3 separate regions of the Homo sapiens genome follow, and regions 2 and 3 are each linked to region 1. Evidence: fine-mapped expression QTL. A gene starts in region 1. Each other region holds a variant in brackets. All regions are shown on one strand. Distances are between the middles of the regions.

Region 1 (8,182 bases):
TGATTCTCCTGCCTCAACCTCCCAGTAGCCGGGATTACAGGTGTGCGCCACCATGCCTGGTTATTTTTTTGCATTTTTAGTAGAGACAAGGTTTTGCCATGTTGCCCCGGCTGGTCTCAAACTCCTGAGCTCAGGCAATCTGCCCACCTCGGCCTCCCAAAGTGCTGGGATTACAGGCATGAGCCACTGTGCCCAGGCTGTAATTGCACTTGTTTATGGACAATTTCATATTCATTTCTTCTCCTTCTTATGCAATTTAATTTCCTTTTGGGTGACCAACTATTCCTGATATGTGTAGGTGCAGTCTTAGTGAGGCCCTGGGCACATGACGCAATTAGAATTTCTCTATAAAGGTTTTATTTTGTTTGTTTGTTTTTTAGAGATGGGGTCTCACTCTGTCTCCCAGGTTGGAGTGCAATGGTGCAATCATAGCTCACTGCAGCCTTGAACTCCTGGGCTCAAGTGATCCTCCCACCTTGGCCTCCTAAGTAGCTGGGACTACAGGAGCATGCCACCATGCCTGGCTCTTTTAAGGTTCTGAGTCCATCAGTGAGGAACACAAGGGCAGAGAGAATGGTTAGGATTTATGCAGGTAGCATAGCAAAGTGGTTAATAACATAACTTACGGAATTGGATAGCTGTGTCCAATTCTGAAATCCACAGTTTACTAGCTATCTGACATTGGGCAGGCTACATACCCTCTCTGTGCCTTAGTTTTTCATTTGTAAAGTGAGGACAATAATAGAATCTACTTCATAACTGTTATATACTTAGAAAACTACCTGACACATATAAAGTTCTACTTTGGTGTGTTTGTTTGTCTTAATGTAATTCCATGTGTTCAAACGTTTCCAACTCTTTCCGATAACGAGACCCCCCAGAGCATCCTACTTACTCCAGTGCTTTCCAGAGGATAGGCCCCAGCCTTCGCATTGATTCTCTGACTGCCAATCCATTCTTTTCTGCTTAATTAACTCAGAATCCGCTTCTGTTGCCTGCAACCCCAGAACGCTGGCTGTCATGTCAATTCTGTCTCATGGCAACCTGGGACTCTAAAACCTTCAAGCTGTGACCCCACAACTCTCAGTGGAATTCTGTACTGAACATCAAGTCTGTTCTCTCCTAAATTCACATCTGGAGTCATGATACTAAAACCATCCAGACCATCTCCTGTAGAGAGAGTTTACTTGATTGCTGGGCTGTGGAAATATTGCAGGGGATTATTAGTCCCAAATTAGTGATAAGCAAGTGAAGGTCGGGGATGTGAAGGAACTTATCAAAAGTTGGGATAGGATGGCTCCTAATTCAGGTTTTCTCTGCTAAAAGACTGATTAACCTATGTGGGGTGGGAGATGGGCTGTGAATAAGGCTTGGGTCTGAACTCTAACCCTTACAACTACACTCGTCTTTTTCAGTTCTTCACTTACTCCCCAGCTCCTTTAAGCTTAATATTGCCTCAGAGCCTTTGCATATGCGGTTCTCTCTGCTTAGAACTTGGTTCCTCTGCGTCTCCCCATCTCCACTCTTCTAATTCCTCCCCTTTCAGATCTAGGCTTTCAGACCCAGGCTTCCTAGACCACCAGCTATAAGTTGATCCCTCTACTGTTCCCAATGTCAACATTTGTTTGTTTCCTTCTTAGCAGTTACCACAGTTATTATTTTTTTATTTTTCCTGTTTATCTGCTCCTTGCCTGTCTCCCCCACTAGACTGTACATTACTTGAGGGCCGGGACTCTCAAGTAATGTATAGTCTAGTGGGGGAGACAGGCTGACTCAGTGCACAGTGTTTGATAAATAAATGGACAAAACCCTGAGCCATCTAACCAGGAATAACTTTGGTCACTGTTTTAGTCTGGGCTGCTATAACAACATACCTTAGACTGAGGGGCTTATACACAACAGAAATTCTCTTCTCACAGTTCTGGAGGCTGGGAAGCCCTAGATCAAGGCACAAGCAAGTTGGGTGTTTGGTAAGAGCCTTCTTTCTGGACCTTATGTTTCTGGGCCTTTCTGGTTCATAGACAGCCCCTTCTCGCTGTGTCCTTCCATGGTGGAAGGGGCAAGGCAGCTAGCTCTCTGGGGCCTCTTGGGCACTAAGCTGGGCATGGTGGCTCACGCCTGTAATCCCAGCACTTTAGGAGGGTGAGGTGGGCAGATCACCTGAGGTCAGGAGTTCGAGACCAGCCTGGCCAACATGGCGAAATGCAGTCTCTACTAAAAATACAAAAATTGGCCAGGTGTGGTGGCGGGTGCCTAAAATCCCAGCTGCTCGGGAGGCTGAGGCAGGAAAATTGCTTGAACCTGGGAGGTAGAGGTTGCAGTGAGCTGAGATCATGCCACTGCACTCCAGCTTGGGTGGGCAACAGAGTGAGACTCCATCTCAAATATATATGTGTGTGCGTGTGTGTGTATATATATGTATATATGTGTGTATATATATGTGTGTGTATATATATGTGTGTGTATATATGCCTATACATATTAGTGCCTATATATGTATATATATAGGTGTATATATGTATATATATAGGTGTATATATGTATATATATAGGTATATATATGTAGGTGTATATATATATATAGAGAGAGGCACTAATCCCATTCGTGAGGGCTCTGTCCTCTCATGACCCAATCACTTTCCAAAGGCCCCACCTCCTAATGCCATCATACTGAGGATTAGGTCTGGACATACGAATTTGGGAGGGGACACACACATATAGACCCTAGCGGTCATCTAGTTTCTTAGTCTCACTCCAAAGCTGAGGCTCAGTAGGAAATACCGACTTGGCCAAGGTCATTATCTGAGAGTCAAGAACAGAACTCGCACACAGCCATCATCACCTCAAAGCCTTGAATTAGGCCGTCATGATGGGGCATAATGTGGGAGAATTCAAGGGCGCTGGGACAGATGCTTACTCCTCATCACCAAATCTAAGCAGCAGGCACTATCATCATCATCATCATCATCATCATCATCATCATCATCCTCCTCCCACCCCATTTTACAGATGAAGAAATCGAAGCTTAAGAGAGTCTGTGACTCCCTGGGAAGTGTAGGAGGAGGAGACTCGAACTTGGGCCTGCCAGCGAGGTCCGCGGGCGCTTAACCCGGCTGCTGCGGCTCGAGGCCTCGCTCTGCGGGTCTGTACAATGGGGCTGTCCGGGCCGGGTGCGCCGTGGGAAGAGCGAGGAGCGGGGAGGAAAACTTGGCGGGGCGGACTCGGGTTCCTCGGGTTCCAGCTGGCTGCTGAGGGGGTGGACGGAGGGAAGGGGGGGCGGTGGGGGCGGGGCGCGCGGGCTGGGCACAAAGGGCTCAGGCACAAAGGGGCCGCTGTCCCGCCGCGCCCCGCCCCGCCCCGCCTCTGCTGCCGCCCCCCGTCTGGTGGCCCGACCCGCGCCGCCCGCGGCTCCCTTATGTCTCTCGCCGTCTCCAGCCTCAGTCCCTCTCTGTCTCTCTCTCAGTCTCTCTCCCTGTCCTCCCCGGCCGCTCCTCCGAGATGACGCCGGGGTCGGTGCCCCGGGCCTGCCCTATCCCCTGGCTCCAGGGCTAGGCGGGACCGAGGGCTGCCCCAGACAGACGGACCCGCGGACCCACAGACCCCGCGCCCAGGAGAGGAGCCGCGCCGCCCGCCGCTGGCAGCCCGTCACCATGGTAACGCGCCAAGGCCTGGACCACCTCGCTCTGCCCCCTTTCAGTGGGCACAGCCCTCCCCATTCCCTGCAGAACAGCCCCGGGTGGCCCTGGCCTTTTACACTGAGACGACCCTCAGTGCCTTGGCAGGGTTGTGCTTACCTGCTTCCACCCCAGCAGGGGTTCAAGGGCAGGAGCCCATCTCTGGCCGCGTCCTCTCCTGGCTTCTCCATGTGTGTGTATGGATGGAGTAAGATTGTACTTGTAAACTTTAATATTCCCCAACCCCTAGACCTGAGCCTGAATCTCAGCCCTGAGGCTGAGGGCTGAAACGGGGTGGTTTTGCATGTTTGTTTTGGAACTGACTGTGATATGCACATTGTCCCGGCAGGGAGTTTGGATGGGGAAGAGTGGTGGTGGGGGTTAAAGTCCCCTCCCAGGCCAGCCAGGCAGTGCAGGGCGAGGAGGGTTAAGGGTCCAGGGTGAAAAGGAGAGAACTGCTTACCAAAACTTGGGATGCTTTTGCTGTTTTAGACTCAGCTATGGAAAGTCAGATATACACATTGAAACCCAGGGTGCTTCCATGGGAATTGGCTGGGGAGAGGGAAGAGGAAGGGACTTTTGGAGCTGGAACCTTGAAAAAAGTTGAGACATTCTGGGAGAATGTGTGTGTGTGTGTGTGTGTGTGTGTGTGTGTGGTGGTGGTGGTGGCAGGGATGCGTTTGTGCCAGTATCTGGCAACAGGGAATGAAAGAAAAGTCTGTTTTTGGAGGATTTCAGCCCAGCTCCAGACAGATACAAGAGCCCCAGGCAGATTCACAGGGGCTGTAAGGATTTTGAAAAAAGCTGTGAAGACAGGCCAAGGCTTTAACCCTGTGACTGTGACCAACCATGTTGAATTTGTGTGGGTTTTCACTCACAGCAAATGCATCTCCACAAGCAGAAGAATTCCATATAGAGGTGTTCATACTCTCTCTCTCTCTCTCTCACACACACACACACACACACGCAGGCACTCACACACACGTACACATGCACACACACGTACACATGCACACACACATACACATGCACGCACAGAGCACACCTGAATGCTCCCACTGACTCACACAGCTGAACACATGTTCACACCCTCTCATACACCCATGCCTTCTGCACCTGCTCCCCCATACTGCTAAACTATGGGCATACATTGGCATACACACCACAGACATATTGCAAAACCGGGCACCTACATCCATGCACTGCGGGGACAGGTGTACACACACATGGCTCTTGGAGCTGTTTGAAAATACTCTCATAAGCCAGTGGTTATTCACCTCTCCCTACAGGCAAGGCCCTGTGCTAGGTGATTTACATCCAGGAGTCAGTAACTCATACCAACTCTAAGATTAGACCTGCGGCTATCTCCAACAGATGGGGACCTCAGGCTCTGGGAACTTAAGTAGCTGCCCAAGGTCACCCCACCCAGAAAGTGCAAGTTAGGACAGTCTGAATTCTGAGCCTGCACTCGGCGGTCATGGTCACTCCAGGGCCACAGCGTGCACCTGGTGTTTGCCAAGCCTCTCCTGCTTTCACACCTAACCTAGTCATTAGAAACCCCTCATTGAACCCCAGATCCTCAGATCAAGGGTCAGGCACTGGTCTGCCCCCTGTCAAAGGGTGAGCAACTCTTTCCAGATTGGGAACAATGTGCAGATTTCCTTCCCTTGCCTGTTTTTTAAAGAATAAAGGTTGTTGCCAGCCTACCTCCCTGGCCTCACTTCTGTGCTCCAGCCACTCCAGCCTTGCTTGCGAGCCTCTTATGGTTCACGCTCCCTGCTGCCCCAGGGCCTTTGCACATGCTGTTCCTGCTTGGAGGAATACCTTCACCTAATGAATTCTTATTTACCCGGTAAATCTTCACCCAAATGTCACCTCTTCAGGAAAGCCTTCCCTGATTTCCCTGACTCTTACTCTAGCATGTCATGTATCTTTCCTTTATGATAACCCATCATAGCTGTAATTTTTGTGGGGCATTTGATTAACAGCTGTCTAGTGTTTGGGGGCACCCCCATGTCAGAGAATCTTATGGCAAAGGGGCTTAGGGTTGATCCTGTCCCATGGTTCCCAAATGTTAGTATCACTGAAACAACTTTTACACATCCACTTACTGGATAAAATATATAAGAAAATGATAAAATCTACTACTTATTATTTGCTCAATATTTTTCTTTAAATCAACTTACTTTGTACACTGAAAAATATATTTAAATAGAAAATTTTATATCACAACCATGAAAAAATCAGTATCCATTGTCATAAATAGAAAGTAACTAAGCCGGGCGCAGTGGCTCACGCCTGTAATCTCAGCACTTTGGGAGGCCGAGGCTGGCGGATCACCAGAGGTCAGGAGTTCAAGACCTGCCTGGCCAACATGGTGAAACCCCGTCTCTACTGAAAACAGAAAAAACTAGCCGGGCATGGTGGCAGGTGCCTGTAATCCCAGCTACTCGGGAGGCTGAGGCAGGAGAATCACTTGAACCCCGGAGGCGGAGGTTGCAGTGAGCCGAGATCGCACCATTGCACTCCAGCCTGGAGGACAAGAGCGAGACTTTGTCTCAAAAAAAAAAAAAAAAGTAACTATAAAAATATGTACTCAATGAAGGCAAATCTGTGTTAGTAAATTCTGGCTGGATGAGGTTGGTGGTGAACAATTTCAAGCCCGAGGACTGTTTTCTTTTGTTAAACAGAGTGATGAGTAAGTGCCTGAGAGGTCTTCGAGATAGACTGGCTCCAGACTGAGGTATTGTCCTTGGTGTCATCGTGAGGAATGGAAGAGAACTGGAGTAACTTTCTCGCTGTGATTTCACATCAATCTATGTTCTCCCAAAATTGTTTTGTGGGCCACCTGTGAGAAAAACTGGTCACGTTCAGGTTTTTTTTTTTTTTTTTTTTTTAGATGGAGTCTCGCTCTATTGCCCAGGCTGTAGTGCAGTGGGACTGTCTTGGCTCACTGCAATCTCTGCCTCCCAGGTTTAAGCAATTCTCATGCCTCAGCCTCCTGCGTAGCTGGGACTATAGGTGTGTGACACTAGGCCCAGCTAATTTTTGCATTTTTAGTAGAGATGGGGTTTTACCATGTTGGCCAGTCTGGTCTCAAACTCCTGACCTCAAGTGATCCTCCCACCTCAACCTCCCAAAGTGCTCGGTTTACAGGCATGAGCCACCACCCTAGCCAAGTTCAGTTTAATCCATTCAACATTGCCCACATACCTGCTGCATGGCAGTACCCCACCCCAGTTCCCTACTGTGTGCCAGGCCCTCTATAAGGACGTGGTTCCTGCTTTGGGGGCTGGCAGTCCATGGAGAAGGCAGGTTCATCCACAGATAATTCTAGGCTGTGTCTGATGGGTGGTGGGGGTCCATCCTTCTGCCTGGAAGCACATGTGTCCTGAAAAGCAAAGAGAAGAGAAGCAAGTCTGGAAGGGCTCTGAAGGGTGGGCAGGAGGTTGCTCAGTCCAGGGAGTGGGGCAGTGGAAGCAGAGACACAGATGTGTGTCCAGGCAGCACTTTCCAAGATGTGGCATCCACCAAAGGTTCCAGGAGGGGAGATTTTAGATGGCACTTAGATGAACAATTTTTAGTTTACAGCTTTTCATCTTAATGAGTATTAGGAAGGAATTTAAACAGCACAAACACATAATAATAAATATAAATAATTTTTTGTTTTGAGACAGGGTCTCGCTCCATCACCTGGGCTGGATGGAGTACAGTGGTATGATCATAGCTCACTGCAGCCTCTATCTCCCAGGCTCAAGCAATCCTCCCACCTCAGCCTCCCAAGCAGCTAGGACTACAGGTGCGTGCTACCATGCTCAGCTAACTTTTTATTTTTTGTAGAGATAGGGCCTCCCTCTGTTGCCTAGGCTGGTCTTGAACTCCTGGGCTCAAGCGATTCTCCTGCCTTGGCCTCCCAAAAGTGCTGGGATTATAGGCATGAGTCGCCACACCCAGCCAAAAAATAGATTTAAGTTGAAAAAGAATTGACAAAAAGTCAAACGTTAAGTAAATAATAATTAATAAAAAAGAGTAAGCCAATAACAAATTAGAATATGTGAACATGGCAGAAAGAACCTCATGAAAGGGGCCCATGATGATTGGAAAGCCTTGGGCTACAGCATAAAGTATGTTTAGAAGAAGTAGGGAAGGTAAGCTGGGAGCTGACTGACGGGCCACAGCACCAGACCAGTGAGTTGCTAAGGCAATAGGGAGCCACCCGAGGTTGTTGAGCAGTGGAGGGTCACAGTTGGATCTCTGTGTTAGGAAGCCCACTATGATGACTAAGAGGAGCCTGGCGTGGTAGCAGGGAGCCCGGGGAAAGAGACAGGACAGCTGGTGGTTATGTGCCCAGGGTCATACCCCAGTGCTACCATTTAGTAGCAGTAGAGCCTTGAGCTCAGTTTCTTAACTTGTAAAATGGGAATAAAAATACCCAGCCCATAGAATTATTGAGATAAAATAGTTAATGAAAAATGCTTAGCAGGGGCCTAACACACAAGACAGTAGGA
Region 2 (8,182 bases), 20 kb after region 1:
TGACAACACATGGCTTAGCAAAGACTCTGGCATGCAGCAAGTGCCCAGTAGCTATTGGCTATCGCTATCCCACTTCCTTGTTTCTCCATCTGAAATAAGAGCATGGCAGCCTCAAAGTCTGCCTCTCCAGCCACCATCACCCAGAAGCAGCCACCTTCACATGAAGTCTGGTGGGGCTTGGGGACAGATACAGCTGACTTGAAATGTGAAGGCCTAGGTCCAAGTCCCTGATGCTTATCAGCTGTGTGGCTATGAGCCAAATGTTTCACCACACTGAGCCTCAGTTGCATCATCTGTAAAATGAAAATAATAATGCCTGGACTGCCTACATCAAACTGAGTTACTGTGAAAGTCAAGTGAGATGAGCAAAGCCATCATCACTCTGGTGCTTTGCTGTTTGCAAAAAATGGCTGGGCTGTTTTTTCTCATTCAATGAGAAGGTGAGAGAGAAAGCATGTTGCAAACCCAAGAGGGCTAAGTGAAAAGGGTCGAGAAAACCTACAGACTCATGAAGGTTTATGGATATTAAGCTTCTCTGAGGCAGCCCAATCTACAATATGACTGATATAAATGGGTTTATCAACATAAGGTATAACTATGGTCAGATCTCACTATTTCCGCAATCAATAATTCCAGGAAACACCTGTTTAATTAGCAGGAAATTCAGTCTCACTCTCTGTACATCTCCCCTACACACATCCAAATTATATAAGATTGTCTGGGACTTACTCAATCCACAGAACTCAGACTCTTTTTCCAAAAGCCAGTTAAAGACCTGTTGTCAGCCCAGTGGAGCTGTTGTTTCCGTTGTTGCCACATGGTGTCACTGTTGAACACTGGTCCCGCACAGCCCAGTGGACAGGCTCAACTGAGAGGGATCACTTGGGTCACAGCCTGTTCCAGAATGACCCTCTGTACCCACCTATACAGGGAATTTCTGGCAACTCCTGTTAAAAAAAAATTTCTTTTTAAAGTTTTGCTTCACCTTCGTGTTATTATCCATTAATGGGAAATAAATAAAAAATAAACAAATAAGCCTTCATTTATTTAATGAGAAATAAATAAACAAACAAATAAAAAATAAACATTCAGGCCCAGAATAACCTTTGGGTCAGGAAAAACTGGACAGCCATCTAGTAAGTTAGTGGCAGGGTCAGATTTCCTGACTTCTCATTCAATACTGTTTCTACTTCACCCTCATACACTATCCAAATTCAATAAGATGTTCAACACTTTATTATAAAATAGGCATTGTGTTAGATGATTTTGGCCAACTGTAGGCTGATGTAAGTGCTCTGTGCACTTTTAAGATAGGCTAGTCTAAATAAGCTATGATGTTCTGTAGATTAGGTACATTAAATGCATTTTTGACTTATGATAGTTTCAATTTATGATGGATTTACCAGGATATAACCCCACCATAAATTGAGGCCATCTGTATAATCTCACTTAATCCTCATACCAACCCAGTAATACTGACATGTATTATTATCCTATTTGCAGATAGGGAAATTGGGGCTCAAAGAAGTTAAGCAATTTGCACAAATTAGCAACATAGACGTTTGTCTAAACCACGTCTCCCTGGCTTTAAAATGGAGGGCTAAGACTTGAATTGGGTTGGGAAATGTTCTGGATAGATGCAGAGAGGAAGGGAGCATGAGCCAAGCAAGGGGACCACTTGGGAAAGCCGATTGCTAACTAGTGCATGGTGCTCTGAGCTTTCTCACTTGGGTCAGTAGGCTAGGATTTCCAAGGTCAGGGCCAGGACGAGGGTGGGGCAGGAGAGTCAACCTTTGCACAACCTTGACAGTGAGTGCCTCCTAAATGCTGCCTCATCCTAGTCCCTGACCTGTTCCAGATTCCACGTGGGAGAGGGAAAGGAGCAAATCCAAGGGTGGAGCCTTTCAGGGCCAGGTTCTCTGATGCCATCCCCTTCTCTCCACAGGCTCCCTACTCACACTGCCTCTTCTTACACGAGGGCTGGCCACTCTGTCTGAGGGATGAAGTTGTGGTCCACTTGGCACCCCTCAACCCTCTCTTATTGCGCCAGGGTGACTTCTACCTCCAAGTGGAGCCCCAGGAGGAGCAGTCTGTCTGCATCATGATCAAATGCCTCTCCCTGGACCTCTGCACAGTGGACAAGAAGCCTGTTCCAGAGCCAGCCTACCCTATACTTTTCACCCAAGAATGGCTGGAGGCCATCAACAGTGACTTTGAGGGAAATCCCCTACACAACTGCTTGGTAGCATCAGAAAATGGGATTGCCCCTGTGCCTTGGACCAAGATAACCAGCCCAGAGTTTGTGGATGACAGACCCCAAGTAGTGAATGCCCTCTGCCAAGCCTGGGGGCCCCTTCCATTAGAGGCACTGGATTTGAGCAGCCCTCAAGAGTTGCACCAGGCCAGCTCCCCAGACAACCAGGTGCTTCCTGCCCAGAGTTTGGCCAAGGGTAAGGGCAGGACATATGGGAGCAAGTATCCAGGACTCATCAAGGTGGAGCAAGCCCGGTGTGGGGAGGTGGCTTTCAGGATGGACGAGGTGGTCAGCCAGGACTTCGAGGGAGACTATGTGGCTCTCCTAGGCTTTTCCCAAGAGAGCAGAGGAGAGTCTCCCAGTAGGGAGGCAGGCACATCCAGTGGGTGTACTTCTGGGGCACTAGAGGAGATAGCTGGAACTAAGGAAACTCCCTTATTTCAAAAGATACTGCCTCTCTCAGAGGCCAATGAAGGACCTTCCTTGGGAAATCGGGCTTGCACAAAGCCAGAAAGCTCTGAGGAGAGGCCCTATAATTTGGGCTTCAGGAGAAAGGTCAATCTTAAAGCACCCACCCACAACTCAGAAAGGCCGCCCCAAGGCTCCTACATGAATGTCCTTGAGGACGCACTGGACTGTGCCTCTGGTCTCAGGGCAGGTGTCTCACAAGAGCCAGCTGCCTCCAAGATGCAGGGACCTCTAGGAAACCCAGAGAATATGGTGCAGCTCAGGCCTGGACCAAGACAAGCCTCCTCTCCCCGCCTGTCCCCAGCTTCTCCTGCAGCTGCAGCCTCTGAAACAAAGATAGAGGTGAAGACCAAAGAGAGAAATGGGAGACTTCCCAAGCCCATGCCCTGCCCTAGCAGAAACACCTCCTCCCCTGAGCCCCCCACTCCTGGGCTCAAATTCTCATTCTTGAGAGGGCAGAGGCAACCCTCTGTGACCCCGGAGAAAGCCTCACTCCAGCACAATGGGCCCTGGAAAGTCCTGTGTTCCCTCTACTCTCCTAAACCCAAC[C/T]GAGCCAAATCTTTGGGGAAAGGTAAGATGCCCACATGCTCAGCTGTACAAGGAGGTTATTGTCTGGTTGAGATCACATTTTAGGTGGTTTTGGTTGTAAGTGATAGAGACCACCTGGGCTGGCTCAGCTTCAGGGGTTTAGTATACAGTGTGGCATGTTAAGGGGCTTGAAGTCTCATGTGTCTGGAATTGAGCAAGGCACTGTGACTGTGTTACAACTGCCTGAGTTCACACTCCACCTTTGCCATACACTGGCTGTGTGACGTTGGCCAAGTACTGAGTTTCTCTGAGTCCACGTTCTCCCTATCTGTGCAATGGGAATGTCACCTATTTCACAGTGTTATTTTGAGGGTTCAAAGCGACACCAGAAGCTAGGTGTAGAGGCTTATCCTGTAATCCCAGTGCTTTGGTGGCTGAAGCGGGAGAATTTGGGTGGCTTGAGGCCAGGAATTTACAAGAAAGAAAGAAAAGAAGGAAAAAAGGAAGGAAGGAAGACGGAAGGAAGGAAGGAAGGAAGGAAAGAAGGAAGGAATAAATAAAAAAGCTGGGCTTCGTGGTGCATGCCTTTAGCCCCAGCTACTCGGGAGGCTGAGGTGGGAGGATCTTTCAAGCCCAGGAGTTCAAAGCTGCAGTGAGCTATGTTCATGCCACTGCATTCCAGCCTGGGCAACAGAGTGAGACTCTGTCACTAAAGAAAAAAAAGTGAGGTGTGGGGAGGGGTAACACTAGAAGTAAGGGGCTTAGCGCAATGCCTGGCACATGGGAGAGATCAATAGTTGTAAGCTATTATTAGTCAGAAAGAGAAAGAGGAGACGTTTTCCCCTTAGAAAGCCCATCTTCTGCTTAACGTCCTTTTCTTTGTTGTTGCTTTTTCCCAGCTGGAACAACTCAGACCAAAACATCTGGCCCAGCCACTGCCCCCAGCCCACTGACTGAGGAAAAGGCTGCCTTGCCAGAAGCTTCTGCAGGCTCCCCAGAAAGAGGCCCCACCCTGGAGGAGGAGCCCCCAGGGCCTGAGCCCAGGATTGGGGCTCTAGGTGTCAAGGTTTTCCGCTCCAGGATAGCATGCCTGCCAGGTTCCAGGGGATTCAAGCAGGAGGTGGTAGGGAGGGAGCTGGGGGCCCCAGAGCATCTTCAGCTGCTGTTGGGTGGAGGGGAGGCAGGGAATGCCCTGGAGGCCTAGGTTCTAGACCAAGCCTCCTTGGGCCTCAGTTTCCTCATCTTTCCCATGGGAGAATTGGAATAGATGAAAGCAATTTGTTGGTATCCATCCACCCATCTATCTGTCTGTCCATCTGTCTACTTGTCCATCCATCAGTGAAGCAGCCAAGGTGGATACTGGGTTCCCCAGAAGCAGAGCCTGAGACATAGATTTTTGGGAAAGTGACCTATTGGAGGAGGGCTCTGAGGAGAAGGACAGAGGGTCAAGGCAGGGGAAGGAGCCAAGCAAGGCTGTGGGCTGACCCCAAGGAGAGCACTGGGGCATGACCCGCCCCACAGAGCTGGCTCCAGCTGAAGGTGTAGGGGACTGGCCTTTTATAAGCCTTGTCTGTCAGTCATTAACTGTGGGCTGATCCCCAGTCTGTCCGTCATTAATGAACTGCAGGAACTTCGGGCTGATCCTGGAATGGGGTGGGGCAGGGGGAGCCAGTGATCCAGTTCAGCCCAGAGTGCTTCTTCAGAGAGGGGGCATCTGTGAGCCACTGACAACTGATACTTTCAGACTCTGGGGATGGGTTCTCTGCCTGCTGAGGGGATCTGGGTTTGGGGTACTAGCAGCATCCAATACAGAAGGTCTTATCACTCGTATTTAATATTTCCCCATTGTTGTAACAGACATTTACTGGTTCCTGGGCTTAGCACTGGCGATTCATAAGAGAACAAGTCTGATGTGTTCTCTGCTATCAGGAAACCTATATTCTAGTGGTGGGGAAAAGCCAACAGGTTATCACAACAGATTATTGAAACCCAGTGTAAACAAAGTGTGACAGTTGGGAAGGACAGGGGGCTGTGGGAGCACAGATGAGTCCCCTGGTTCAGGCTTAGGGTAGTAGAGGTCAAGGATGACTTCCCGGAGGAAGTAACGTAAAGCCCAGTCCTATGGTATGAGTAGGAATTATCCAGGTGAAGAGTTGGGAACGGCGTTCCAGACAAAGGGAACAGCATGTGCAAAGGTCCAGAGACAAGAGAACCACAGTGCTTTCTGGAGACTGATTGTCCTGAAATACTATTTTACTTCACAGACTTCCATATCTCTTCAGGACCTTGAGCACTGCCCTGTCTTTTTGCAGCTCCCAGGAGACCTTATCTGTCATTTTCCTGGTCATCTTTGCTGAAGCTCCTGCTGTTTGTTCCATATTAATTGTACACAAAGGATCTCATGATCCTCTTAGGGCCATCATGGGCCAAGGGCTCAGATTTTGTCCATGGAAGGCTCTGCTATGGGAGGAAGGTGACCTTTGTTTTAGTTCTAACTCTATCATTAGCTCCCTGTGTGTCCTTGGAGAAGTCACTGCCCTCTCTGGGCCTCCTTGAGAGGAGGAGAATAGACAGATAGGACCTGGCTCACTGTCACTCTTCCCTCAGTTACTTTTGTTGTAATTCTTGGGGGTTGCAACATGCACTGTTAGCTCGCACATGCCTGATGTGTAGCATGTGTGCAAAAAGCATTTGCTGTGTGAATGAGCAACGTCCACATGCGTGCTCCTTCTGTCCGTTTTTTGTCCTGCTCTTCTCTAGTGATCTTGTCCTCATTCCCCACATGACTCCCCCCATCGCATCCCCCGTAACCAACTTCTCCCCGCCGGGTTTTCATGTTAAGGCTCCCTCTCCTTTATTACCACTGCTTCTCTTTCCAGGTCACCCACTGCCCCAAGTTTCATCATCTTCAGGCCTCCCAAAACCTTGAACCTATTGGTTCAACCACCTTTTCACTCCCCTTTTCCAGCATGTCTCCCCACCCTCCACCACATCCCTTCCCCATCATCATATCTTCCTCACTCTCCACCACATCCCTTCCCCATCATTATGTCTCCCCCACCTTCTGTCACATCCTCACATCCCTTCTTCCTAGCTTAGATTCCAGGCTCACATTGTAATCACTTCCTTTCAAACACTCACTCGCTTGCTTTCCTCTTCCACCTTCACACTTACCCAGATAAATCCCAACCTCCGTGAGATCCAACTCTCCACCTGCACCCTCAAGCTGAACGAAGCTGGAAAAATCCACACAATTGTGCAGGCTAATTGTGTTGAATTCCTGACCACTGACCTCTGGGGGTCCCAATGGTGCTAGTGGATCCTACTTCACCTCCAGAGTCCTGAATGACTCCCCCACAGTCCTGTGTGATGACTTCACACCTTCTCTCTCCTTTGACCTTCAACACCACCTTCCCCAACTTAAATCTCAGCTGATGACCTTCCTTCTGGTCTGAGTGAGTAAGCAGAAGCAATTGGAAGGAAGTCTATGAATTGCTTCTGCTTACTCAGTCAGACCAGAAGGAAGGTCATTCACCTACCTGCTGGCATCTGTACCCACAGGCTCAGCATTCTAGTATGGATGAATTGTCCATGTGCCTGAGGCTGACCCTGAACCCGTGCTCTGTTCCTCTTTACCTCCTCAAAGACATCCCTCCAGCAAGATTCTCTTCTCCTTCCTACAGGATCATCTTTCCTCTTTGGCTCTGGGCCATTCCCATCAGGATGAGAACACGCTGCAATATTGCCCAGCTTGAAATGAGCTATTCTAGGCCCCCGTGTTCCCACCCTCACCCTTTTACATTAAAACTCCACAAAGCAGTTGTCTGTGTTCCCTGTTTCCACACCTTCTCTCTTCCACTCACTCTAATCAGAATCCCTTCCCCACTGTGCCACTGAGACACGTCTTGTCAAGGTCGTCATTGCGTTCCATGTTTCTAGATCCAGGGGTCGATTCTCAGTCCTCATCACCCTAGGCCCTTCCGCAGCATTTGGCATGGATGGCCACTTCCTCCTGTTGAAAGGCTTTCTTCACTTGCCATTAGATCTTCAGTCACCCAGTCCTCCTCTCACCTCACTGGCCACAATTTTGCAGCCTCCTTTCCTGTCTCCTCATCTCCACAACCTGTAAATCCTGGAGGGCCCCCAAAGCCCAGTCCTTGGTCCCTTTCTCCTCTCCATCCACACTCACTTCCTAGGCGATCTCATCCTGGAGGTGGAATATTTTCTGTAAATGCTCTCTCCAGGCTGACAACCCCGACACTGATTTTTCCAGCCTGGGCCCTGGCCATGAACTCCAGACTTATCCATCCAGCTGTTTACTACTTGATGTCTCTGCGTGGAGGTCTCACAGACATCTCTAACTTAGCATGCCCAAATATGGACTCCTGACTTCACATCCCCTCACCCCACACTTCCCAACCTTCCAGTCTTTCCTCATGGCAGTAAAAGATGACCACATCATCCTTGATTGCTCTTTCTCTTACATCCCACATTCAATTTGTTAACTGTCAACTCTCCCATTAAATTGTATTCAGAATCTGTTGACTTCACCCCACCCAAGTCCAAACCAGCGTGGTCTCTTGCCTGCTGCAGTGGTCTCCTCGCTGGTGTCTCTGCGTCCACACCGGCCTCTGTTGGAGTTTCCTTATAGGGCAAACAGTCCCCAGAGCCTGTGCTTCAAGATCTAGATCTGCTCCAAGCCAGCCCTGTGAAGCAGGTCTCCCCGTAAAGTTTTCATAAAGATCTGTTCTCAGGAAAGAAACTGATCAACATGCAGGTGTGAATGTCTGCTCCCATGCTGGGGATGGGGTTTTGTTTAATAGGCACTGTGTTTCCCATTGTGGCCATAACAAGTTATTACAAATTAGTGACGTAAAACAACACAAATGTATTATCTGATCGCTCTGTATGTTAGAAGCTCAACATGGATCT
Region 3 (8,182 bases), 75 kb after region 1:
TGTCTTGGGGTACTCTCCTTACTCCAATTAAAGTCTTTCTTTCTGTTATCACATACAAATAAGTCAAGTCTGTTATGTCTTGCCCAAACAGCAGATTTTAATCTTCACCCTCACCTCCTGCCATTTCATTTTTCTGACTTCTTTTGTGCCATGGCGTCTGGTCTACTTACATCTCTGGAATCCAGACTTACTAATTATGGGCATACAGGGTTCTGGCATCTTCATTATGCCTTCTGGGGTCGTTGTGCCCAAGAATATATTGAAATACACATTATTTTATCATAAGTCACTTCCATTTTATGTCTCCTTTATATTAGAGACATTGCATTGATGTGTGTGTGCATTATCATCCATAAGTTTCATTTCGAACATTTAAATGAAAGAAAGCTTAAAATGTTTGATAGAGAAAGGGGGCTTGGGTAATCACACTTGTGGGTTTAAACCCAGCTACAATGTGTTCACGTGTTCATCAAAAGATATGTGGCCAGGTGCAGGGGCTCATGGCTGTAACCCCAACACTTTTGGAGGCCGAGGTGGTAGATTGCTTGAGCCCAGGAGTTTGAGACCAGCCTGGGCAACGTGAAAAAACCTCGTCTCTACCAAAAAATACAAAAATTAGCCAGGTATAGTGGCACGCACCTGTAGTCCCAGCTACCTGGGAGGCTGAGGTGGGAGGATCGCTGGAGCCTAGGGAGGTAGAGGCTGCAGTGAGCCCTGATGGTGGCACACCACTCCAGCCTGGGTGACAGAGTGAGACCCTGTCTGAAAAAAAAAAAAAAAAAAAGATATGTGCAAGAATGTTTACAGCAGCACCATTTGTAATAGTTCCAAACTGGAAACAACATGAATATCTTGAATATCTCGAAGCTGAATGGATGCATAAACTGAGGTGAGCCACACAATGGAGCACCCACAGAAGGAAGAATCAGTCACTCACAACTACACTTGGCAGTACAGATGGGTCTCACACGAGCATAAGGTTGAGTGAGAGAAGCCAGCCACAAAAGAGTGCGTGCTGAGTGACACCACTTATAGAAAGTTCTAGAATCAGCACAACTCATCCATGCTATTAAAAGGCAGGACAGTGATTACCTGTGGGGGATGGAGGGTGGATGGAAGCACAAGGGGAACTTCCGGGGTGATGGTCATGTTCCTGTTTCGTGATCTGATGGGTTCAGTTTGTAAAAATGTATCAAGTTGTACAGTGATGTGCACTCTTCTGTATATAGGCTCGTATTAGGGTTCTCCAGAGAAACAGAAAACAGAACCAATAGGGGTGTGTGTGTGTGTGTGTGTGTGTGTGTGTGTATGTGTGTAGAGAGAGACAGAGAGAGAGACAGAGAGAGCAGAGAAGAGGGGAGAGATTTATTTTATTTTAAGGAATTGGCTTACATGACTGGAGGCTGGCAAGTCCCAAATCTGCAGGCTAGGCTGGCAGGCCGGAGACCCAGAAAAGAGCTGACATTGCAGTTCAAGTCTGAAGGCCGCCTGCTGGCAGAACTCAGTCCTTTCCTATGAAGGCTTTTAATGGATTGACCAAGGCCCACCCACACGGTAATCAGATTGCTTCACTCTGTCTGCTGCTTTACCTTCGTGATCTGCTTTACTCAATTCGGCTGATTTAAATACTAATTTCATCTTTAAAAAGATGGTGGCCTAGCCAAGTTGACACATAGAATCAACTGTCACAATGCTATACCTCAATTAAAAAGTGATTAAAGTGGGGGGTGCTTTGGACTGAGGGTTGAGAACCACTAATTTAGTTGAAAGCTCATAAAGGGACCCACATTTTTTTTTTTGAGATGGAGTCTCGTTCTGTCTCCCAGTCTGGAGTGCAGTGGCGCGATCTGCCTCCCGGCTTCAAGCAATTCTCCTATCTCAGCCTCCTGAGTAGCTGGGACTACAGGCGCATCCTGCCACACCCAGCTAATTTTTTTGTGTTTTTAGTAGAGACAGGGTTTTGCCATGTTGGCCAGGCTGGTCTTGAACTCCTGATCTCAGGTGATCTGTGCGCCTCAGCCTCCCAAAGTGCTGGGGATTACAGGCGTGAGCCACTGTGCCCAGCCAGGGACCCACATTTTAATTACAGTCACCAAAGGGCCAGTTCTGTATTTGGTTGCACAAGCAGGAGTATTGTAATTGGATCAAGGAAGAGGATGTGTGTTCCCCCGTCCTCCCCCCTCCCTCCTCCACCCCTCCTCCCCCTTTCTGCTGATTTTTCATTACCTGGAGAATTTTGGTCATTTCTGAAGGCTATTCCTTTGTAGTGACCCAGCTTGTCATGGGAATTATGTGGCCAAGGGAGTAGCCAAGAAAGAATGACTGGTATCTCAAAGAAGCATGATTCACACAACAAAACAAAAGCCTTCAAAAAAATAGGTGCCCTTAACCTGATAAAGGGCATCGATGAAAAACCTACGGCTAACATCATACTTCCTGGCAAAAGATTAGATGTTTCCCTCCCAAAGATCAGGAACAAGACAGCGATGCCCATTCTTGCCACTTCTATTCAACATCGTACTGGAGGTTCTAACCAGAGCAATTAGTTAAGAATATGAAATAAAAGACATCCAGATGGGAAAGAAATAAAACCATATTTGCAGATGATATAATCTTTTATATACAAGAAAATGGTAAGGAATCAACTAGAAAATTACTAAAACTAATAAACAAATTCAGCAAGGTTGTGCAACCTGTATGTAAAATCAATACATAAAAAGCAATTATATTTCTATACACCAGCAGTGAACAATCTAAAATCAAATTAAGAAAACAATTTAATTTACAATAGCATCAACAAGAATAAATTCTTAAGCATAAATTTAACAAAAGGTATACAAGACTTGTATACATAAAACTACCAAATATTGTTGAAAGAAATGAAAGATCTAAATAAATGGAGGCAGACTCCATGTTCATGGATCAAAGGACTTAATATTATTAAGATGGCAATACTCTTGGAATTCGTCTAAAGGTTCAATGCAATCTCTGTCAAAATTCCAGCTGGTTTTTTTTTTTTTTTTTTTTTTTTTTTTGCAGAAATTGACAAGATGATCCTAAAATTCATATGGAATTGCAAGAGACCCCAAATAAACTAACTACAATGCTCAGGTAATCAAGACAGTTTGGTACCAGCCTAAGGATAGACATATAGATTAAGGGAATAAAATTGAGCATCCAGAGATAAACCTTTATGCTTATGGCCAATTGCCTTTCAACAATGGTACCAAGACCATTCATTCAACAGGGGAAAGAAGAGTCTTTCAACAAATGGTGCTAGGACAACTAGATATTCACATCCACACCATACACAAAAATCAACTCAAAATGGATCATAGACCTAAATGTAAGTTAAAAGTATAAAACTCTTAGAAAAAAACACAGGATTAAACTTTCATGACCTTGGGTTAATCTAAGTCTTCTTATATATAACATTAAAGGCACAAATGGCTAAAGAAAAAAAGACTGAACTTCATTACAATTAAAAAGTTTTCTGCTGCAAACAATATCATCAAGAAAGTGGAAAGACAACCCACATAAACTAAAAAAAAAGGAAAATCACATATCTTATTAAGGGATTTGTATCCAGAGTATATAAGGAAGCTTTGCAACTCATATACATAATAAAATGTAAGGGGCCAGGTGCAGTGGCTTACACCTGTAATCCCAGCACTTTGGGAGGCCAAGGCAGGTGGATCACTTGAGGTCAGGAGTTTGAGACCAACCTGGCCAACATGGTGAAACCCCATCTCTACCAAAAATACAAAAATTAGCTGGGCATGGTGGCTGGCACCTGTAGTCCCAGCTACTGGGTAGGCTGAGGCATGAGAATCACCTGAACTCGGGAGGTGGAAGTTGCAGTGAGCCGAGGGTGTGCCACTGCACTCCAGCCTGGGCAACAGAGTGAGACTCTGTCTCTAAATAAATAAATAAAAGTCAAATAACCTAAAAATGGGCAAAGGATTTGAAGAGATATTTCTCCAAAGAAGACATGCAAATGGCCAGTAAGCACATGAAAAGATGTTCAGCATCTTCAGTCATTAGGGAAATGTCTATCTAAACCATGAAATATGACTTCATACCCACTAGACTGGCTCTAACGAAAATGAGAGACAACATTAAGTTTTGGCGAGGATATGGAACAATTGGAAATTCATACATTGCTAGTGGGAATGTGAAATCGTGCAACAACTTTGGAAGGCGGTTCGGTAGTCCCTGAAAAAGTTAAACATTGAGTTACCATGTGATCCAGCAATTCCACTTCTAGGTATATAGATCCAAGAGAAATGTTTTTTTCTCTGCTAAAAATTCCTTTATTAGAGAAGAAGAGGAAGACAAGTACCAGGAGATAACCAACAATAACTCCCACCACCACCCTTTTCTTTTTTTTTTTCTTTCGTTTTTTTTTTTTTTTGTATTGATATGGAGTCTCACTCTGTCACCCAGGCTGTAGTGCAGTGGTGTGACCTTGGCTCACTGCATCCTCCGCCTCCTGGATTCAAGCAATTCTCATACTTCAGCCTCCTGAGTGTCTGGGATTGACTACAGGCATGTGCCACCAGGTCCAGCTAATTTTTTTGTATTTTTAATAAAGACGGGGTTTCACCATGTTGGCCAGGCTGGTCTCGAACTCCTGACCTCAGGTGATCCACCCGCCTCGGCCTCCCAAAGTGCTGGGATTACAGGCATGAGCCACCACGCCCGGCCTCTTTTTCAAACAGAAGTAGTCCAATCCGGCAAAAATATCAATCCTTGGATTTGGAGACCAAACTC[G/C]TAACAGGCTTCTCTGACTTTCCCAGACATCTTCCATCCACACATAGACGGAGCCAGAGACTGTAATAAATCAATGTCAGGGGGAGGAAACGCCAAGATTGATGACACATGTGTCAGAATGTCTGAGTAAATTCCTGACTTTTCACCTGAGTGAGCTCTTGGAGGAGTAAACTGTTCTGCTGGCCAAAGGCAGGCGGCAATATCAAAACTCCACGTACACGCTCCAGTTGACTGAATACCATGAAGCGTTCTCAGCACAACAATATAGAAAAACTTCAAAGGAAGGATTCTTCCTCCAAATTCCACCAGTTACATCACTTGGGCCTGAAACCATCTTGTTAGACTACATGTTGAGGCTCGTCATTCTAGATTTGTTTGGTGCTGTCTTTGCATTCAAGTCTTGTTTTCCAGAAGAAATGCAGGCACAATCCAATTGCAATTTTATCATCATGCTTTTTGGATGTTACAGTAAGCCTCCATTCCCCTTCCTTCTCCTTCCCAAGTACCACTACAGCCTGCTCGGCCCCCGACCAACACCCCAACTTTCACTGACACAAGCCTCCCCAAGAGAAATTAAAATATACATCCGCACAAAAACACGTACACAAATGTTCACAGTATCATTATTCACAAGAGTTTAAAAGTGGAAACAAGCCAGGCTCAGTAGCCCACGACTGTAATCCTAACACTTTGGGAGGCTGAGGCAGGAGGATCGCTTCAGCCCAGGAGTTTGAGATCAGGTTAGGCAACATAGCGAGACCTTGTCTCTACAATAAAATAAAATAAGATAAAATTAGCCAAGTGTGGTAGCACGCATCTGTAGTCCCAGCTACTCAGGAGGCTAAGGGGGGAGGATCGCTTGAGCCCAGGAGGTTGAGACTGCAGTGAGCTGTGATTGTGCCACTGCACTGCAGCCTGGGCTACAGAACAAGACCCTGTCTCTAAAAATAAAATAAAAGTGGAGAGTACCCGAATGTCTATCAGCTGATGAATGGATAAATAAAATGCGGTATATTCATATAACAGAACATTATCCAGTAATAAAAAGAAATACAATTCTGATATGTGCCACGACATGGATGAACCTTGAAAACATTATGCTAAGTGAAAGAAGGCAGCCACAAAAGATAACATATTGTATAATTTGATTTATATGAAATGCCCAGAATAAGTAAACCTATAAAGATAGGAAATAGGTTCACGGTTGCCTAGGAGTGGGGAGAGAGGTAAGGAATTGACTCCTAATGGGCATGAAATTTCTTTTTGGGGTGAAGAAATGTTCCAAAATTAGATGATGATGATAGATCTACAACTTTGTGAATACACTAAACGTCAAATTGTACACTTTAAACATGGTATGTTCATTATGTCTCAGTAAAACTATTTAAATAAACAAAAAAAAATGAATTCTTGACTTATAAGTTCCATGGTAGAGATTTAGTCTAAGGAAATAGTTGCCAACAGGCTCAAAGATGTAGCTTATATCACCCAGAGTGCAGGTGCAGGACACAGAAACCACATTCACTACTTTCAACATAGGGAGATTTAATGCGAGAAGTTGTGTTCTTGCAAAATCATGGAAAATTCTGAAGCAAGGGACCTGGGCTTCTAGGAGCGATTCTTAGAATGTCACCGCTAAACTGGCCTGCCCAGGAAAGCTGCTGCCTCTGCCACCACCCAGAAGCTTGGGAACTATTGTCTTCAGGAGTTTGTCACCTTAGCTTCACTCCAGCCATCAGATGCGGCTGATGCCCCATCACCACTTCTCAACACCCAAGAGTTGGTGACCAGGCACTGTAGACACACCTGTGGGAGGTCTCAATGCCTTCACAACCAGCAAAAGGAGGAAGATGACCTCTCTCTTACTTTTGCCTTCAAAACCTCACACAAATGCATTTAATGGGAACTACTTAATTGGTCTCTAAACCCTAGCTGCAAGGGAGTTGGGAAATGCAATCTTCACCCTTCCAGCCCCTGCAGTTGAGGAAGGCATATAAGAGGGGGTTGAAATTGATATGGAATAAGCCAATCCACCTTATGAGCCCAAGGCTACAGGGATGGCACTGTTTGCAGTAGTGAAAAAATGGGAAGCAACCTAAATGCGCAAGAAAAGTGGGGCTTGACAAATTCAGCCATGTGATGAAATTCTTGATAGCCAATAAATATGTTGTAGAAATACATGTGATTTGAAAATGTTAGGCACACAGTGAAAAAAGGCAAGGGACAAAAGAGTGCTTAGAGGCAACTTTCATGACAGTAGGAATCGCATCCTCTGGTCCGCTGCCTGCCACATGCTTGGCACAGGGTGAATGTTCAACAAACATTTCCTGGACAATTGAGTGATTCCATTTTTAGAAACTAAATACATAATTATGTGAGTTTGTATCTACACATACACCTAAATATGATATAGCAACACTGAACAAGATAAAACAAAATGTTAACAGTTGTTCTCTTTGTTGGTGATACTTGGATTGACTTTAACTTTCATCTTTTGGCTGTTCTGTATTTTATAAATTTTAAACAGTGAGCATGTATTACGATTAATTAGGGGGAAACCACAGATGTTCTGTTGAAGCCACAGAAAGAAAACAGGCCTGCCTCATTTCTTCATCTCCCCCAGGGCCTGGCACAGAGCTGGGTCCAGAGTGGGCACCAAGCCACGCTTGGTGACCAAGTTGACCTCCGTTTGCTGCCTGAGAGATTTCAGGGTCTTTCTTCAGGAACTCCTGGGTAGAGTTGGGTTTCTAAGATAATCTAGACTCTAACATAGTAGTGCTTCTCCCCATCTAAAACTGGCCAAGCATCAAAGCCATGTGACCTTTCCCAAGTGCCAGCCTTGAGCGCTTGCTGAGGCTGTCCCAGGGTGACTTCAAGCTCAAGGATCTTTAAGAGCTAGATCAACTACTCAGCCCTGCCCCTCCCGTGCACCCATCAGGCCCTGGGGCCATTGCTGCTTTGATCTACCAAGCCAGGCCTGACATCACTGCTCCCAGCTGTGCTCAGTCAGGCAGAGGCTTTTTAGGGATTGAGAGGAGCGTTGGTCTGTCCTCTGGGGCTGCCCCTTGGTATCATGAGAAGTCTCTCAGGGGGTGCTTTGTTTGTTCCACTTTCACTTACACAGCTGTTAAGGTCTTAGGTCACACGAAGAAGGGAGTAGGGACCAGAATGAGAAAAACGAGAGTCCCAGTTGGCTCTGTGCCATCCAGAACCACACAGGTTAGTGAGGTAAATTATGAGCCTTGCTTTCCACAACGAGCTCTGCCTCACACTTTCTGCCGGTGGACAGGGCACTGATAATGGCAGACCCTCTTCTTCCTTGGGGCCTTTGGGAGAATTGGAGGAGATGCCCGAGTGCTTGATAATCAGTGCCAGCCATCACTCCATTTATCACTCCCATTAGACAGAT

Direction of the effects. Alleles are on the strand shown, and positions count from the first base shown. SD is a standard deviation of normalised expression in the study named. Not every link is listed here.
With allele C in place of G in region 3, the expression in prefrontal cortex of the gene that starts at base 3,416 in region 1 is lower (moderate effect, 0.69 SD a copy in ROSMAP).

The links. PIP is the estimated chance that this variant, and not a neighbour inherited with it, causes the effect.
Region 2: its variant is fine-mapped to the expression of KIAA1755 in lung (TOPMed, PIP above 0.99).
Region 3: its variant is fine-mapped to the expression of KIAA1755 in prefrontal cortex (ROSMAP, PIP 0.95).

Annotation. Positions count from the first base shown.
Region 1 is chr20:38,255,969-38,264,150 of GRCh38, reverse strand. KIAA1755 reads left to right here and starts at 3,416. Exons shown (of 14, transcript NM_001029864.2): 1 at 3,416-3,653. The coding sequence starts at 3,651. It overlaps LOC124904900 (a long non-coding RNA gene), which reads right to left. Exons shown (of 3, transcript XR_007067581.1): 2 at 6,888-7,065; 3 at 6,290-6,522. It overlaps LOC149684 (a long non-coding RNA gene), which reads right to left and starts at 3,976. Exons shown (of 2, transcript NR_104170.1): 1 at 3,795-3,976. RefSeq lists an enhancer at 3,159-3,658.
Region 2 is chr20:38,235,693-38,243,874 of GRCh38, reverse strand. It overlaps KIAA1755, which reads left to right. Exons shown (of 14, transcript NM_001029864.2): 3 at 1,946-3,293; 4 at 4,150-4,347. Among named protein-coding and RNA genes, the nearest start is that of KIAA1755, 21 kb to the left of the region's middle. The variant C/T (reference allele first, on the strand shown) is at 3,272.
Region 3 is chr20:38,181,047-38,189,228 of GRCh38, reverse strand. No RefSeq gene overlaps it. Among named protein-coding and RNA genes, the nearest start is that of TGM2, 20 kb to the right of the region's middle. The variant G/C (reference allele first, on the strand shown) is at 4,774.